Regions from separate parts of the Homo sapiens genome. Here all the other regions are reported to be linked to region 1. Evidence: microRNA targets listed by miRTarBase, many of them from high-throughput screens and not tested one by one. Region 1 holds a microRNA gene; each other region holds the end of a gene's coding sequence.

Region 1 (3,127 bases):
TCTTTTTAGAATGTTTAAGATAAACATTTATGGCCAGGCACGGTGGCTCATGCCTATAATCCCAGCACTTTGGGAGGCCGAGGCGGGCGGATCATGAAGTCAAGAGATTGAGACCATTCTGGCAAACATAGTGAAACCCTATCTCTACTAAAAATACAAAAAAAATTAGCTGGGTGTGGTGGCACGCGCCTGTAGTCCCAGCTACTCGGGAGGCTGAGGCAGGAGAATTGCTTGAACCTGGGAGGCGGAGGTTGCAGTGAGCCGAGATCGCGCCACTGCACTCCAGCTTGGTGACAGAGTGAGACTCCTCTAAAAAAAAAAAAAAAGAGGAGCATTTACTAGTGACATTCTAAAGGAGCAGAAGACCCTGAGTGCTGGTTTGAGAAGTTTAGATTTGTTGTGTTGGAACACTATTTAAGGTCCATGAATTAGAGAGTAATGTGGTGGGTGTGCTGTGTCAGAAAGGCTTCACTAGCAGTGTATACAGAATGAGTGGGAGTGAGTGAGCCGTCTGGAGGTAGGCAGGTCCTCTGGAGAACTGTAGTAATTCACAAAGGAGAGGAAGAAAACTCAAAATATGATGATAGCTATGGAGTCGAAAGTAAGATAAGAAACACAATGAATAGTTGGCGGTCCTATTGATTAAGTGGAGAAAAATTATATTGAAGTTGCAAACCTAGGAGAATGGCCAGATAATACAGATTATGAAATAAATGGAGAAGGGACCAATTTTGAAAAAGTTAATTTTCCTTAAAAACATAAGGAAATAAAAGGGTCCTGAAGTGAGAGAAATCAAAGATTGGAGAAGGAAAGAGGGAGAAATTATGCCACTTTTAATTTCAGCTACTACCTCTATTAGGATTTGGGAGTTATACTAATAGAGGTAATAGTTGAAATTAAGAGTGGATGAGTTCTGGTATGAAGTGGTTGATGGGGACAACTGTTGATTGACAACTGCATTTTAAGGAGAGGATACTGATAGTAATGGGAGATGGGATGAAAGAATGCCCAGGCAGAGAGGAAATTTAATAATTTCAGGAGTGGGGAAAGAATAAAGACAAATGTTACTGCAGCCTACCTTTCATTCTTTTACTGTGCATGAGATACTGTATTTGCTGGATGTTTTCCTGTAGATACCACATTGTTCTTCCTCCGGGAGTGGCATGTCAGAAAATTTGATGATTATTTTAAAGATGTTGAGTTTTATTCCTGAAATTGAATATGGTAACGGAAAAAGGGTCTTGGGTAGTTTTTGGTGTCATATGCTGTGTTCCTTTTAGTTCATAAAATCTTTCATCTTGTTTGAATATCTGTGGGTCTAAAAAAAAAACAGCTAATTTTTGGATAGGTAAAAGTCCAGATACTTTGTACATTTTAATTGATTATTTAAAAAATATTCCCTGGCTTTTAAAACTTGGCTAATACAAATTGTAAGAATCACCATCTTTTTAGAAGAACATACTGTGAATTCAGAATTTTTGCTGGCTTAGTGCTTGTCAGCATGGAGCCTGTTCACAGGAAATGCTTTAGAATCAGAGTCAGAGACCTGTGACACTTCTGGGGAGTCAGTATGTAAAATAGTTAGAGTGCAGGCTCCAGAGTCAGTCTCCCTGGTTCCACTGTTCACTAGAAGTATATCCTTGGATAGATTACTTAGCTCGTCCATTAGATTTGCTGTCTGGACGTGTCAGTAGTAACAATCTCAATGTCACACGGTTATTGAAGAGATCCATCATAGAGCTTACATTCTAGTAAGGAGAGACAGGCAGTATACAAATACTATAAATACACTGGAGGAAAACATAGTGGGGCTGATTATAGTCGATTTTTGCTCTTTTATTTCCGGTAACAGTAAAACAACTCTGATAAGAAAAGGTTTGAACATGAAGGCAGACCTGAAGCGAGTGAGGGAGTGAGCTATGCAGCTAACCAGGGAAGAGTTCCAGGTAGTGGGGATAGCAAGTGCAAAGGCACTGAGGAAAGGGCACATGGGAGGGGGCAGCAAGAAGGCCACTGTAGCCAGAGCAGTGAGTGAGGGAAAAGGAGAAATAATTTCAGAGATAGCGAGTGATCAGCATGTATAGGGTATTAAGCATAAGAAGGACTTTGGATTTTATCCTGTGTGAGATGGGAAACCATTGGAGTGCCAGAGTAATTTTTTCTTAAAGCTAGTCTGCTTGTCATTTCTTTTCTTAAAAATGCCTCAGTTCCCTGTTGCCTTTGGAATAATGTTCACGTACTTTACTTTGGCACACAAGGTCCTTCACAGTCAGGCCTCTGCCTGTTTATTTAGCATCATCTGCTTCTTTCCCACATGTACCCTTCACTTTAGCCAAGTGGGATCACATGCAGCTCCCTGGATGGGTCATGATGCTTTGTGTCTTCGCGTCTTTCTGTACCGTTTGCCCTGTGAGAAGCCCTCCCCCTCAGCTCACATGGTCACTGGCTCTGTTTTAGAGGGTCCTCTTTGTGCTCTTGCTCTCTCATCATTTCCACCCGGAGCCACTTTGCACTTAAGCTGCTTAGGCTTGAAACGTGCTGTGTTCTTTTACCAGCCTTGATTTTACTCTTGCCACACCCTTGCCGGTTGAAAGTATGCCTATCCAGCTCAGACACTGCCATCTTCTGCCTCCTTGGGACCCTCAGAAACACTTTGTAGCTCTCTTCTACCTAATAATAATTATTTGGAATTAAAATGTTTCTTTGCCTTCACAAAAAATCCTTGGGCTAACTTATTTCAGTTTTCTTTGTAGCTCCTAGAACAGGGTCTTACAGACATTTCATATTCAGTAGGTATTCATGGTGTGTAGGATTCATAGTATAATTAGAAAACTATTGGCTTTCAAACAACTAAGGGCCAAAAGCAGCAAAAATGAATGCACAATTAAAATGAGTTCCTATTAACAAAACAAATTTACTGTAATTATGATAGCTAGGTAATCCTTGTTCTCTTATATATTTATATATACTTACTAGTGGCACCAAATATTAGTATACCCAGTTTGAGATGCAGTTTGTTGAAATATATTTGGACACAGCCAGGCGTGATGGCTCACATCTGTAATCCCAGCACTTTGGGAGGCTGAGGTGGCAGGATCGCTTGAGCCCAGGAGTTCAAGAACAGCCT
Region 2 (3,127 bases), not on the chromosome of region 1:
TCATTTAAATTTTGTCTACTTGTATCATATCAGCAGCACTTTCCCCCAAAAATATGCTTACCAAGAAATACAGTAAATGCACATATGTATCCAAGTGTGAAATGTTATCTATACTTTAACATATATAATCACATATTTTTTGGAAAAAATATAGTGTTTCCTGGAGTGCTCATAGCATGTGTTTTAGCAACACATAGTGGAGCAGGTCTGAATCAAACTATTCTTTCATTCCAGTTTGTGCCAATATTGACATGTAAAAAAAATTAGCTTTGTATTCAGTCTACTATTGAGATATCTAGCCTGATAGGATATGATATGATGGCTGGTTAGATTGTAAGTTAATTTCTAAGTTCACAAATATAATTGAAATGTTGTGCAAAAAAACTCTTTAAATCAACTAGTTTTAAGATCAACAGCCTGGGACAGAAAGAATCTAAATAAAAAGCCATTTTTACTTGTGAAAATAAACTAAAATTAATGTAACCAATTTGAAAAGTTTCTTTTAAACAATCTAGACAAGAGTCTAGCCTGTCTTTTGTGCAGAACGTTAGTACGTGGCAAAATGAAATTCCCACCCCAGAATGTCAGCTCTGAGGGGGCAGCGATTTTTTACCTGTTTTGTCCATCACTGTATTTCCAGTGCCTAAAAGAGTACTTGGTACCTAGTAGGTACTCAGTAAATATGAATGTTTAAATTCAAAGATGTATCTCACTGATGTTAGGAAACAGTGTCTTCATTTAACATTCTAAAAAGTTATTGAATTTTATAGCTTTATCACGGACAGGCTCAAGTATTTTTTAAAACTCTACCTAACTAAAAAAATATTAAACCTAAATGTAAATCTTCCTGGAAAAACCTTTTTTCAGAGGTTGATTTGGGCATAATAAATTTAACAGACAATTTGAAGTAGCTAGATTTCCCTTCTAAATTTTAAGAAGTCCTATATAGAGAATGACTGAATTATAAATTAATAAGCAATAAACATCACATTCATATAATTATACATAGGGGAAATGTTTTCTTATAGTACAGTTCTAAGGTGCTTTCAGTGAAGAAGACCCCAAAGTCACTATCAAAAATGTCAAACATGACATCCTATTTGGTAGAACTGAGTAGAAAATTAAACAGTGGAAATAGACCACAGCTTATTTTACAGTACCAATGACAGATGAACGATTGACTAAATTGTTCTTAACATTTCTCAAAATGCATTTATATTTAAATTAAATGTAACTCAAGTTCAACTTTTATTTTGACCTGTTGGGTTTTTTATGTGTGTGTGTGGTTTTTTTTTTGTTTTTTTTTTTGAAAGCACAGAAGGCCATTTTCTGACTAAAAGCCACCACCGTCATTCTTGGAAAATGGCAAAAATTAAATCTGCTTTAGGGCTTGCTCCACTAGGACGGCTTTAAACTGCTTAGTAAAGGAATGTGCTGAAGAGTGGCTGGACGAAGCTTCTGTCTTTCAGAGTGCTGCCTATTTCAATACACCAAAGATTCAGCTATATATATGTGTGTGTGTATATATATATATATATAATACATTCTATCTTACCCTAATCATGTATACATAGTCCCTTGACACCTCTACTATTCATTAAACAATGATAAATAACCATAACATGCCCTTACCTGTAATGCTTTCAAGATAACACAACTTTGGTAACACTTGCTTTCTAAGGGGGAATCATTAATCAATCACATGCCTTTGGTTGACACCATCAGTCCTCCAAAGGGCTACTTATGGCTCTCTGTCCTAGGATACTGGTGTCCTACTACATGTGCTGACATTTGCAGGAGGTAAAGCTTTCGCTTTCAGGAAGTCGAAGAGAAGAGACACGTGTGAAAACATGGTACATAAAACATGACTAACTTTCTTGATTACATTCCAGTGCAATGATCTGGAGTTAACGGGGCAGTTTGTTTCCCAAAAGGTAGCATTACTTTTGTAATATGCTTTTCAAGGCATTAGAAATTTCAGGTTTCCCTGAAGAAGTACTTTGTTTGCTGATACAAGGTGAGCCAAAGGGGTGGTGAAAAGAACACACAAAAAAGGATCTTTGTCTAACCCAGAAAGGTTGAGAAATTTGCACTGATACTTAAGTTCTGAACTCCAGAGGGCTGCTAATCAGAGCTGGGATCATTTTGCAAGACAGCCTTACTTTTTCCAAAGTAATTTATATTTAGTTGTTGATAACCAAAAAAATGTCACAAGAGTAATACCTACTGTAAAAGTGAGGTTAGAAGATTCCCTGGGTCTTGTGACCTAGGTTAAATGAAGTATATAACTACAATAGATTTTGTTTTTGTTTTGCTTTTGGAAGTTCTGTGCAAAAGCTACCATTCACAGGATTAACGAATACCTTTACATATGCTAGTTTTTTAAGTGTCTGTTTGATTTGCAAAATTAGTTTAGCTACATAAATCCTGTCCCTTAAGCCATAGTTCACAGATGTAAAACTGCAGTTTTTATAGATTCAGTAGAAGAGTTTTTTTTAACCCTAAAGGTGAAATACAGAAATTGGATAAGTCATTTTTAAGGAAATTGTTACATTCAGAAATAACCTTGGAAAGTTCACCAATGATTCCTTCTGGCATAAAAACTCTAGTCATAATCTGGTCCCGCATTGAGAAATCCATTCCAGTTTATAGTGCAAGACCATGGAAGCGGGTATCCACCTGCCCACCATTACTGTAAGTATCGATAGACTTTGAAACAGTGATTTCCAGAGTCTGCAACCACAACATGACCATCTGAAGTTAGGGCCAGGCCTTGGGGGCCATAGAGTGGGTCAGCAGATGTGTTAATGTAGGACAAAAATGATCCACTCCCATCAAAAACCTGTAAACAAATAGGAAGTCAGAATGTTATAGGAGAAGTTATAGTAATATGCTGAACATGGGTTAGAAAACTCTTGATGCTAATGTTTTTCTGTTTCTTTCTTTCTTTTTGACAGGGTCTCACTCTGACACCCAGGCTGGTGTGCCGTGGTGTGAAGACAGCTTACTGTAACCTTTAATTCGTAGGCTCAAGCGATTCTCCTGATTCAGCCTCCCAAAGTGCTAAGATAATAGCCATGAGCCACCATGCCCAGTATATATGCTTTTATATTTAAAACATTAGCAT
Region 3 (3,000 bases), not on the chromosome of region 1:
AACCAGTCCTCAATCCTTACTACACATAAGAGAATTCATACTGGAGAGAAATCCTACAAATGTGAAGAATGTGGCAAAGCTTTCTATCGATCCTCAAAACTTACTGAACATAAGAAAATTCATACTGGAGAGAAACCCTACACATGTGAAGAATGTGGCAAAGCCTTTAACCATTCCTCACATCTTGCTACACATAAGGTAATTCATACTGGAGAGAAACCCTACCAATGTGAAGAATGTGGTAAAGCCTTTAACCAGTCCTCACACCTTACTAGACATAAGAGAATTCATACTGGAGAGAAACCCTACCAATGTGAAAAATGTGGCAAAGCTTTTAACCAGTCCTCAAACCTTACTGGACATAAGAAAATTCATACTGGTGAGAAACTCTACAAACCTAAAAGATGTAACAGTGATTTTGAAAACACTTCAAAGTTTTCTAAACATAAAAGAAATTATGCTGGTGAGAAATCTTAGAAATGTGAAGAATGTAACAAAACCTTTAAAAGTTGTCACACTTGATTGTGCATAAGATAATTCATACTAAAAAAAAACCTACAAGTGTGAAGAATGTGGCAAAACTTTTAACCAATGCTCACACCTTATTGCACAGGAAAGCATTTGTACTAGAAAAAAATTTCAAATATACAGAATGTGAAAAAGCCATTAATATCTGTTCACATCTTACTCAACATCAGAGATTTCATACTTAATAAAAGCATTATACATGCAATTACTGTCAAAAATCTTTCAGAAAATATAAGCCTCTAAAGTGAAGAGTATTCATTTTGAAGACACACATTATGAACATAAGGAGGGTTGTGGTACCTTTACTTGTATCACAGATCTCATTGTACACATTTTGTGCTAGAGGAAAACCATGGAGCAGTTGCTTAAACTTTGTGCAACATAAGGAAATTTATATTGGAGAAAAACCCTGCAAATGTAATAAATTTGGGAAAACATTTTTTCAAAAACGACAGCTTAGAAAACACTAGAGGGTTCATACTAAAATCTATTTTTGCAGATGCAGTAAATATGAAAAAATATTTAATCCAAAATTCTATGTAAATATCAGATAATTCACAGTAGAAATAGTTAAGGCACTGACACTTCAGGCATTACACTAAATCAGATTGCTGAGTATAGAAAAGAATCTAAAACTAAAGTTGGTAAATGAATTATTTGTATATAACATTATAAGAAGTAGAAAATTTTTGCAGAGTTGTAACTACATTCAAACTATCCTTTGAAAAAAATTAGGTTTTATGAAAAGTGAATAATGTCATTTAACTCAAGTTATGCTCTTCATTCCTATTGTATTCACATGTGAAAGCATGTGACTTAATTGTTGCTGCATCAAAGATGAGAGATTCTTTGTTATTAGGTGTGCATTATTTACGACCTTTTTTAGTGAAAGAGTTAAGGACATTAAAATGTAAGATGCAAGATGAAAATGTAAGTGGAGAGGCTCTTTCTGGTTAATTTATAATATTGACTGATGCATGAGGTAGGAGTTCAGATAAATATCCTGTGTTATATTGAGAAAAAAAATTTTCTGGTATATCATTTTACTAATTGTACTTTTTTTTTTTTTGAGACAGAGTTTTGCTCTTGTTGCCCAGGCTGGAGTGCAATGGTGTGATCTTGGCTCACCAAAACCTCCACCTCCCAGGTTCAAGGGATTCTCCTGCCTCAGCCTCCCGAGTAGCTGGGATTACAGGCATGTGCCACCATGCCCGGCTAATTTTGTATTTTTAATAGAGATGGGGTTTCTCTATGTTGGTCAGGCTGGTCTCAAACTCCCGACCTCGGGTGATCCACCCACCTCGGCCTCCCAAAGTGCTGGGATTACAGGCGCGAGTCACCATGCCTGGCCAATTGTACTTTTATGTAATAAAATGTAGTACATTTTAAAATTTTTAGATAATGTGTGAACTTATTAATCAGGCTTTTTAAAAAACATGTTAAGACCATCGTGCATTCAATGAAGCATTATTATGCCATTAAATTTAACTTATCCCATCTTACTCAAGGGTATAGGTAAATGATGGTAACTATACACTATTTAATAAGATAATGGACTAACATTTCTAGTAATCTGTTTTGCCAGTGGCTTTAAATTGCAAATAAGTCAGAGAATATTATTCCTGTAGGTTGAATTATTACTCATTTTTTCTTATTTAAACTTATTTTTCTTAATTTTTGTGGGTACATAGTATGTGTAAATATGGCATATATGGCATATTTTGATACAGGTATATAATATGTAATAATTACATATGGGTAAATGAAATATTCATTACCTGCAGCATTTATTGTTTGTATTTGTTTGTATTATAAACTAATTCTGCACTTTTCGGTTTTTTTTTGAGACGAGTCTCACTATGTCACCCAGGCTGTGCACGCCTGGGTGCATTGGCGTGGTCTCAGCTCACTGCAACCTCCGCCTACTGGGTTCAAGTGATTCTTCCGCCTCAGCCTCCTGAGTAGTTGGGACTACAGGCGCATGCCACCACACTCAGCTAATTTTTGTATTTTTAGTAGAAACAGTTTCACTACGTTGGCCAGGTTTGTCTTGAACTCCTGACCCCATGATTAGCCCCCTCGGCCTCCCAAAGTGCTGGGATTACAGGTGGGAGCCACCACACCCAGCCACTTTTAGTTGTTTTCAAATGTACATTAAATTGTTGTTGGCTACAGGGTCTCTTTTATGGTCATAAGAAAACAATATAAACAAAATGCATACATTTCTGAGACCTGAATTAACATTAAAAAATTGTTATATATTTTTCTTCAAACATGTTGCCTCTCTGCCTGCAAGCACATACAGACTATTAGTTTTGATTTACACAGAGTTAAATATATACATATATTACTTTAAAGATAAAGCTTGGGTTTAAAAAAATTATGGAGTAAATAAATGCCTTCTTTGCGAGTATGAGTTTCTACCTAGTTTCAGAAGAGCAATATTGAAACAAATCAAATTATTTTAATTAG
Region 4 (3,127 bases), not on the chromosome of region 1:
GTATCACAAAATATCCAAAACTGAAGGAAGAATAGTGAAGCTTCAGATACAGTGCTGGATGAGGTGAAGGGAGGTAATGGGTGAGCAGACATTGGTCTAAGATGTTGAGCAGCATGTGATGGGCCATCAGATACTGTGAAGAAGTGAGGAAGCAGAGCTAATGATGGCTCAGTAGACATTGATCTAAGGTGAGGTAATGGGATGTGTCACCAAGCACTGCCCAACTAGGGCTTGGGAATTAAAGGGGCATTGTGGCCCTGCTTCTTTGACTATGTTCTATCCTTTGGGCCCCATCTTCACCTCCCCATACTGCCCTTCTTAAAGGTGAAACCATCTTTGCAGAGCCCAAATAGTTCCCACTCCCAGAACTGCCAATAGACTGGCCCCAGACGCCACCCAGCAACTGTGCATCTAATCAGATCATCTGTCAGCATCTGTAAGGCCACTGCTGCCTATCTAGGGCAAGATACCTAATATCCAATGAAGATCCACCCAAGTCTGCTCTAGTTCCCTGCTATTGGCTTCAGGCACTCCTCTCGGGGCAGGATGAGCAGGTGTGTGGATTGGGTTCTGGAGTAAATGCGGCTCTGTCGAGTTGCAACTGAGACAGGACAGCGCTGTGCATGCTGAGGAAAAATGAGCAGGGAGTCTTTTGCAATCATGTTGGAGCTGTGGGATTCTGGAATCATGGCAGGAAATCCTGGAAGCAAGCATCCACATGGGATTTCCTGTACCTGTTTTCCCTTCTTTAGCATCAGACCAAAAGGTTCACAATGACTTTTTAGCTTTAGGGTTGAGAAGGGATACAGCCCAGGTACAGACTAGAGGTGAAAAAGCCTGGTGTGTTTTAGCCAAGTTGGTTCTCCCTATTAGCGCTTCTTATGCTGCAACACAGAAAAAAATCAGACAGAAGTCACGCAACAAGCATGGGTCAACTCTCCACAGGTGCATTTATGGAATGCCTGCTGTATGGCAGTCATGGGTCTAGACTCATAGTGGTGAACAAAAGGGAAATATTTTCTAGTGTAGAAGCCACAGAGAAATGAGGAAAATACACCAGGCAGCATGGTGGAAATTGCTAGGGAGAAGAATAAAGGAGGAAGGGTAAGGGGCTGGAATTTTAAACCAGGCAGGCAGGGAAGGCCTGTGTGGAGGTGTCATGGAAAAAAAGACATGACGGACAAGCCACAGATAAAATAAAGAATTGTGCTCTTTGCAACGGGCACTGCAAATACAAAGGCCCTGAGTCAGGAACTGATGTTTGAGGCACATGGCGGGGAAGGTCCTTGTGGGGTGCGTGGGACGAAGATGGACACAAGTAGACAGTGAACATATGGTGGGGTTGGTTTTCATATGAGTTATCAATTTCATATGATTTATGATTTATCTCATATCTCATATAATGTAAGATAATGATTTCATGACTTATCAACTTATGAAAGTCAGATCATTAAGGAAAGTAAAATGCTGGGCTTCAACTCAGTCACAAGTAAATTAAAAAAAAAAAAGAGGCAGGCAACTGAGTGAGAAGAATTGTAATAGCAGAAGGAAGAATTTAAGTTCTCCCAGATGACCTGAAAATCCTAACCTCAAAGGCTTTCTTGAGGGTGGTGGGAGTGTACAAAACACTGTGCTGGGCCGGGCGCAGTGGCTCACGTCCGTAATCCCAGGACTTTGGGAGGCCGAGGCGGGCGGATCATGAGGTCAGGAGTTCGAGACCAGCCTGGCCAGCATGGTGAAACCCCCGTTTCTACTAAACATACAAAAATTAGCTGGGCGTGGTGGCACACGCAATCCCAGCTACTCAGGAGGCTGAGGCAGGAGAATTGCTTGAGCCCGGGAGACGGAGGTTGCAGTGAGCCAAGATAGCGCCACTGCACTCTAGCTTGCCCGACAGAGCAAGACTCTGTCTCAAAAAAAGAAAGAAAGAAAGAAAGAAAGAAAGAAAGAAAGAAAGAAAGAAAGAAAGAAAGAAAGAGAAAGAAAGAAAAAGAAAGAAAGAAGGAAAGAAAGAAAGAAAGAAAGAAAGAAAGAAAGAAAGAAAGAAAGAAAGAAAGAAAGAAAGAGAAAGAAAGAAAGAAAAAGAAAAAACACTGTGCTGGGTGTCAAACACAATGTGCTGAGAACCTGTGGGGCTCAGAGAGAGTCCTGGCAGATAATGAAGGGGACTGTAAGTCTTTTTCTATGACAATGGGGACTCAACATACGCTCTGAGGTCTGTGTCTGAATACACAGGGAGTTTGTCTTATTGCAGTATCTCTTGCTTGATAGAAATACTCAATGGGGAATTGGATATGCACAACTGTGTTCGATTCAAAAGAAGAAAATACCCACAATTCTACTAGACAGTGTGTTCTGGAACAAACAACTCACAGAAGGATTCATCACTATCATATATATTATGTTGTCTTACCATTCAAACTGTTGGCACTATACCTAATCCACAGTAAACAGGATTATCATTCCCATAATATGATCTTTCTTATGAAGAATTTGGTAACAGTATTCTATTGTAGTTTTCATGAGAAGGCTTTTCCTATTCACCAAATTGACTCGGTTCCTTGTCAGTATGAATAATGACCCAAGGTTTACTGGGGATGGTGACAATGTAGGAAGGGTCCCTCGCCTCATTCAGTGCCTTCTCAGAGGCCCTCTCCAGAACAGCCATGTGTGACATTCTGATGTGGTCATTTCTATTTACAATAATATACATATTTTTCTGCTGCATGCGTGCAACAGTGTACAATCAGACCCAACCCTCAGGGGGGTTTTCTCACACTGTTTCTCTCAAGCGTGGCTGCTCTGATGAACACTGAACACTGATTTCTGAACGAAGCCTTTCCCACAGATGCCACACTTGTAGGGTTTGTCTCCAGTGTGTGTTGTCTGATGTTTATTCAAATTGGACCTGTTGCTAAAGGCCTTCCCACACTCAGCACACACGTAAGGCTTCTCTCCAGTGTGAATTCGCTGATGCACTTGGAGCTGTGATTTTTTAGTGAAAGACTTCCCACAGTCACTGCACTCATAAGGTTTCTCTCCAGTATGAATTCTGTGATGTGTAATCAACTCTGACTTCTGTCGAAAGGTCTTCCCACATTCAGAACAAATGTAGGGCTTTTCTCCG
Region 5 (3,127 bases), not on the chromosome of region 1:
ATGAGCCAGCACGCCCGGCCCCAGGTGGTCTTTTTAGCGGGTATTAAAGCAGCTTTCTCTCTGAGCCTTAAACCATGAAGATAGACAGACTCAGTGTATGGGTTTTAGAGTTGTAATTTTATAAAAATAAGAAAAAGTCGACCTATCATTGATGGTTAGTATTTTTTGTAGCAGTTGCATGCAATATTAGGATAAGGCATGTTCTCAAAAAGAACTCTTTTTTTTTTTTTTTTTGAGACGGAGTCTCGCTCTGTCACCCAGGCTGGAGTGCAGTGGCACGATCTCCGCTCACTGCAAGCTCCTCTTCCCGGGTTCACGCCATTCTCCTGCCTCAGCCTCCCCAGTAGCTGGGACTACAGGCGCCCGCCACCGCGCCCGGCTAATTTTTTGTATTTTTAGTAGAGACGGGGTTTCACCGTGTTAGCCAGGAAGGTCTCGATCTCCTGACCTCATGATCCGTCCGCCTCAGCCTCCCAAAGTGCTGGGACTACAGGCGTGAGCCACTGCACTTGGCCTTTTTTTTTTTTTAGATGGAGTTTTGCTCTTGTCGCCCGGGCTGGAGTATAATGGCATGATCTCGACTCACTGCAACCTCCGCCTCCCGAGTTCAAGCGATTCTCCTGCCTCAGCCTCCCGAGTAGCTGGGATTACAGGTGCCCACCACCATGTCAAGATAATGTTTGTATTTTCAGTAGAGATGGGGTTTGACCATGTTGGCCAGGCTGGTCTCGAACTCCTGACCTCAGGTGATCCACCCGCCTTAGCCTCCCAAAGTGCTGGGATGACAGGCGTGAGCCCCTGCGCCCGGCCTTTGTAACTTTATTTTTAATTTTTTTTTTTTTTTTAAGAAAGACAGAGTCTTGCTCTGTCACCCAGGCTGGAGCACACTGGTGCGATCATAGCTCACTGCAGCCTCAAACTCCTGGGCTCAAGCAATCCTCCCACCTCAGCCTCCTGAGTAGCTGGGACTACAGGCACCCACCACCACACCCAGCTAATTTTTTTGATTTTTACTAGAGACGGGATCTTGCTTTGCTGCTGAGGCTGGTCTTGAGCTCCTGAGCTCCAAAGATCCTCTCACCTCCACCTCCCAAAGTGTTAGAATTACAAGCATGAACCACTGCCCGTGGTCTCCAAAAAAAGGACTGTTACGTGGATGTTCTAGCTTCCTGTTCTCGTCTTTTCTTTGTTAATTGTACAGTTTGAGGGTGTGTGTGCGTGTGCGCGCGTGTGTGTGTGCAGTCTCCTGATTTCATGTATTTAATTGTTATTACCACCACCTCCATCTCTCATTCCTTCTTACCCTCACTGTGTAAAGATACATGTTGTTTTTAAATTTTATTTATTTATATTTATTTATTTGTATTTTTGAGGCAGAGTCTCACTCTGTTGCCCAGGCTAGTGGCATGATCTCAGCTCACAGCAACCTTTGCCTCCTGGGTTCAAGCGATTCTCCTGCCTCAGCCTCCCGAGTAGCTGAGATTACAGGCACACACCACCACACCCGGCTAGTTTTGTTTTGAGACGGAGTCTCGCTCTGTTGCAGGCTGCAGTGCAGTGGCGTGATCCTGGCTCACTGCAACCTCTGCCTCCTGGATTCAAGCGATTCTCCTGCCTCAGCCTCCCAAGTAGCTGGGATTACAGGCGCCCACCGCCACACCTGGCTAATTTTTTATTGGTAGTAGAGACGGGGTTTCTCCATGTTGACCAGACTGGTCTTGAACTCCCAACCTCGGGTGATCCACCCACCTGGGCCTCCCAAAGTGCTGGGATGACAGGCGAGGGCCACCGCGTCCAGCCTTCTTCTTCTTCTTCTTTTTTTTTTTTTTAAGATGGAGTTTCACTCTGTTGCCCAGGCTGGAGTGCAGTGGTGCAATCTCGGCTCCCTGCAACCTCCACCTCCCAGGTTCAAGAAATTCTTTTGCCTCAGCCTCCCGAGTAGCTGGGACTACAGGTGCCCGCCACCACACCCACCTAATGTTTGTATTTTTTTGGTAGAGACGGGGCTTCACCACATTGGCCAGGCTGGTCTTGAACTCCTGACTTCAGATGATCCTCCTGCCTCAGCCTCCCAGAGTGTTGGGATTACAGGCGTGAGCCACGGTGCCCGGCCAGACGTCATGTCTTAGGAAATCAGAAAGTGGGTAGTTTCCGCACTCTGAGGAGAAAAAGAGACGTCCAGCGAAGAGAAAGGAGAGTGAAAGGATGTCTCCTCTTGTCTGTAGCCTGTTCTCAATCGTGAGTGAGCCAATTGCCAGAAACTGAGGGTGCTTCATTTGGCCAGGCAAGCTTCTCAACAGAATGTCTAAGTACTTGTTAATGCTGAGAAGCTCTCCAAGCTACTGCACTCCAGCCTGGGTGACAGAGCACGACCTTGTCTGAAAACAATTAATTAATCAATTAATTAATATAATGAAATCATACTGAACTCAGGAGACCATTGGGGTGGGCAGGGCTGGGGTTGGAAGGGAACATAAAATACGGTGCAGTGGACTTTGCTCCAGTCTCCCTCCCCATCTCTTCTCGCCAAGAGTCTCTGGAGGGAGCATGGGGAAGATGCTTTGGGAATCTGTAACTTCTTGTCTTGTAAACAGAATATCTAAGTAATTGTTAATGCTGAGAAGTTATAGATTTCCAAAGCCTTTCTCCAGGCTACGGACAAGGGTCATGGGTTACTCAGTGTTACAGAAAGAATGACATGGAGATGTTTGTTACATCTTAAGGAACCATGAGGGGCCAGAGTATTTTACTCTAAGTGTAGATGGTACATTGGCCACGCCTGTCCCAACACCACCAATGGTGGCACCTAACTTTTGTGTTTGTGCCCCACATTTCTTCTTCTTTTCTGACGTAAATGCAAGTGATATTCCTTGGAAACCATGCTGCAGCAAGAGGCCATCTGACTACTAGTGATACCCTGTAGCTCACCTACAGCAGCTCACTTGAAGCAGCTCACCCATAGCTCAGGTATAGCTCACCTGCAGCGGCTCACCTGTAGCTCACGTGTAGCTCACTTGTAGCAGCTCACTGGTAGCTCACCTGCAGCAGCTCACCTGTACCTCACCTGTACCTCACCTGCAGCAGCTCACCTGTAGCTCACCTGTACGTGAGCCACCGTACCCGGCCA
Region 6 (3,127 bases), not on the chromosome of region 1:
ATGAGTTCAGACCTTTTAGTAAAGAAAAATGAATATGTGAAAGCAGATTATTATTAGATGTTAAAGTCTAGATACAAGTCCAGGTTCTCTGGATGGCATTAGTCAGCAAATCATTTTTTCATTTTATAGAATTTACCAAAGTATTCATTCTTGCTTATTTTTCTTAGAATGCATAAACTTGTAAAACCTACTACTGAAAAGAAATATGTGGATCTTACTGTGTCATTTGCTCCAGACATTGATGGAGATGAAGATTTGCCGGGACCTCCAGTAAGATACTACTTCAGTCATGACACTGATTAATACAAGTTGTCTTAACGTTACTCCAGGACCACTTGATTTTGGAAAGAGTGCACTTAATTCAGAAGCTAAAGAAAATCAGTTCATAATACTATGGATTTCTCTTTCATTAAGCCTTAATTTTAAGGGAAACATCAGTAAGAAACTGCACTGAAGAATTATAAAACATTTTGGGGCATAGCATACACTTGTCTAACGGTTCACACGTGGCTATGATCACAAGCAACTTTGAACTGGAATGCTATTTACAAAAGTTTTGTGTATTAATCTGTGTATTAATCTCTCTGGATAAAAAGAAGGAAAAAATATGTATGACCAGAACAGATATGGATGAAGAAATTGAAAGCAACGAATGCAACTATTCAAAAAGTTTAATTTTATGAATTTCTTTTTTGTTTAGTCTTGAAGACTGATTTTCTATGCAAATAGTGTTTGGCATCCTGCACCTCTGATATGATTTGGCTTTGAGAATTTAATACCACTGGGAAGAAGTATGGTAGTGGTGGATGAAGGGTGGATATTTTAAATTGTGCAGTTACAGTTTACTGTCCTATTACCTCTGCTCGTTTAACCAGTTTGTTATATCACTGTGTCCCCAAAATCAGGATTTTTGTTGATAGCATCAGTGTTGTAGGAGCAATAGGTCAGATGAGACATATTAACTTAGACTAAACGTGAACAGTATTATATGGACTCTCACAACGCTCTTAGAGAATCCGTGAATGTGAACAGACAAATGTGGCTAACCATTTGATTCTTCAGTATGCCTTCTAATGTGGCTATTTTATTTATGTGAGACTCTAAACCTGATTGTCCTAATATATAAAACTAAAAGATTTTGTAAAGGGAGTGTCTTTAGAAATAGATGAAATGTAGAATGTTAAAAATTATTGCTAGGGTAGTCTTTTTTTTTTCCAGAAACCTAATTAGGGTATTAAATTTTGTGTTTTTTTTGTTTTTTTTTTTTAAACAGAAGCATGTTATTTCATTCCCATTCCCAGAAAGGGAGTTAATGAAGATAAAAATTTATTTTTTAAGGTCTTTATTGAGAGAAACTTTGTTTTCTGATATGAACTATTGCAGATGTTTTTATAAATACTTTCATTAAAATGATGTAAACAGTAGTACCCAACACTGTAAACTCAGTGAAAATAGTAAATGATTCTTTTATTACTAAGACTGTCATGCATTCTGAAGCAGTTGGCTTTTTTTTAACCATAGGAAGTAATTTCCCTCTAGCTCCTTTCCTTCTACTCTCCTGCTCAGACCATTAGTAGGTACTTTGTTAAATAAAAAACTAGATTAACATCAATATTACTCCAATTTGGTATCTTTTACACTATGTATTATACCTACTTTCTTTTTATTTCATTTACAAATAGTTTAAATTACTTTATCAACCAGCTGTATTGTTTCCCTCTTGTAAAAGTACCATCAAGTGGGGAAAATGTATGTGGAAGTGGAGAGTGAATTTGTATGACTAAAGGATAATCTGTACATGGGGAAGTGGGCAAAAGTGGATAGGATGAATTTAAAGAAAATGACTACCTTTGGAAAAAAGAAATTAAATTTTGTTCACATATCCTACCCTTTCCCATTGTGCATATCCCAAGTGTCATATTTAAAACTAAGGTTACTTAAAACAGAATCCAGGAATATCAAGGCTCTGTGGCTTGGAATTTTAGAGGATAGGACTAATAAAAGGACTTTTGCAAAGAAGGCTTTTTTCCACGTTCACTTTGTTTTGTGTTCTTTGAAAGTAACTGATACTTTTCGGGTAGTTAATTCAGCAGTCCATAAATATGATCCAGTAACTTGCTTATATTTTATTGAAGTCTCGACAGCTCTTCAGAAGTAAATTTAGAACGATGCTGTCAGTTCATATTTATAGATATTAGTGTTTTAGCAGATAAAACAAAATCAACAAAAATTAAGTTCATTTTGTGATTAAACCTGCAACCATTTTTCCATTACTTTTTTTCTATAGTTAATGGTTATTGCCATGATTTCTTCTGTTTGGTTCTACTAAGCTAGAAAGCCAGGGTGAAGTTAATGATAATTCCCATTATTTTATTTCTGTACCATGAGATTGCTGTTGATGACTGAAATACCAGGTGCAAAAATTAATGATTTGATTTTTGTACAGTTTCAATGAGTATTTTTTACTTATTAAAAATAAATTAAGAAATGTAAGAATATCTTTGTAAATCATGTTTCATAAGTTGACTCCAGAGATTCTGATTTTGCTGTTTATTTTGTGAGTAATGTTGCTTTGGTGTTTCCTGATTTTCAAGTTTGCAATCATGGAGATACAGCAGTTATTAGGTGTGGAAGGACATTACCTCAAATGTCCTCAGATGGCTCCAGGAAATTCTTTTAAAACAGTTGGAGAGAAATAGTCGTGACCATGTAAAACCTAGAGGATCTGGTAAATCCCATACTACTGGTTAGGGATTTGTAAAGTCCATTTCTTTTTAGAGTTCAAAGCAGTTCTGTTACTTGTCCATAAGTTCCTCATAAATTGTCCCAAAGGTAGGACATGGAAATAAATGTATATCTTTATTTTTTAATCTACTATGTCACACTCTGGTGATATTCATGGAACATTAAAAAAGCAACTATGTTTATTTTATAATTAGTAAAATGAAGATAGAAAATTGTTCTTTTGAAATTTTTAGGGAAAAAAAAAATCTCGTGACCTAAATCTTTCCACTATAATGAATATTCATTGTGATTGCAAATATCTAATTTTATATAATCACTGTGTATGGATTTAGCGATTTTACTTTTCATAGATTCAAAAACATATAATCTGAATGCTTTCTCT

Evidence for each region. Region 1 holds the annotated microRNA hsa-miR-5690 (UCAGCUACUACCUCUAUUAGG, at 840-860, shown strand). A microRNA usually pairs through its seed, bases 2 to 8, with sites in the 3' UTR of a target mRNA and lowers its output. Matches are read on the target gene's strand: a 7mer-m8 pairs with bases 2 to 8, a 7mer-A1 pairs with bases 2 to 7 and ends in A, and an 8mer does both.
Region 2: miRTarBase lists TRIM2 as a target of hsa-miR-5690. Seed matches in the 3' UTR shown: 7mer-A1 at 1,499-1,505.
Region 3: miRTarBase lists ZNF681 as a target of hsa-miR-5690. Seed matches in the 3' UTR shown: 7mer-m8 at 1,708-1,714.
Region 4: miRTarBase lists ZNF585B as a target of hsa-miR-5690. Seed matches in the 3' UTR shown: 7mer-m8 at 1,798-1,804.
Region 5: the mRNA of SHOX is a reported target of hsa-miR-5690. Seed matches in the 3' UTR shown: 7mer-m8 at 638-644 and 7mer-m8 at 959-965.
Region 6: the mRNA of UBA6 is a reported target of hsa-miR-5690. The part of its 3' UTR that is shown has no 7-base or 8-base seed match.

The regions. Positions count from the first base shown.
Region 1 is chr6:35,662,493-35,665,619 of GRCh38, reverse strand. It overlaps MIR5690 (microRNA 5690), which reads left to right and starts at 831; the gene lies at 831-903. The region is part of intron 1 of FKBP5 (FKBP prolyl isomerase 5); the gene reads left to right. RefSeq lists enhancers at 1,923-2,422, 2,423-2,924.
Region 2 is chr4:153,334,529-153,337,655 of GRCh38, reverse strand. It overlaps TRIM2 (tripartite motif containing 2), which reads right to left. Exons shown (of 12, transcript NM_015271.5): 12 at 1-2,842. The coding sequence ends at 2,690. Among named protein-coding and RNA genes, the nearest start is that of MND1, 8.6 kb to the left of the region's middle.
Region 3 is chr19:23,741,089-23,744,088 of GRCh38, reverse strand. ZNF681 (zinc finger protein 681) reads left to right here. Exons shown (of 4, transcript NM_138286.3): 4 at 1-3,000. The coding sequence ends at 477. Among named protein-coding and RNA genes, the nearest start is that of ZNF681, 16 kb to the left of the region's middle.
Region 4 is chr19:37,182,440-37,185,566 of GRCh38, forward strand. ZNF585B (zinc finger protein 585B) reads right to left here. Exons shown (of 5, transcript NM_152279.4): 5 at 1-3,127. The coding sequence ends at 2,788. Among named protein-coding and RNA genes, the nearest start is that of ZNF585A, 11 kb to the left of the region's middle.
Region 5 is chrY:658,255-661,381 of GRCh38, forward strand. SHOX (SHOX homeobox) reads left to right here. Exons shown (of 6, transcript NM_006883.2-2): 6 at 531-1,157. The coding sequence ends at 575. Among named protein-coding and RNA genes, the nearest start is that of SHOX, 35 kb to the left of the region's middle.
Region 6 is chr4:67,616,173-67,619,299 of GRCh38, reverse strand. It overlaps UBA6 (ubiquitin like modifier activating enzyme 6), which reads left to right. Exons shown (of 33, transcript NM_018227.6): 33 at 168-3,127. The coding sequence ends at 303. Among named protein-coding and RNA genes, the nearest start is that of STAP1, 59 kb to the right of the region's middle.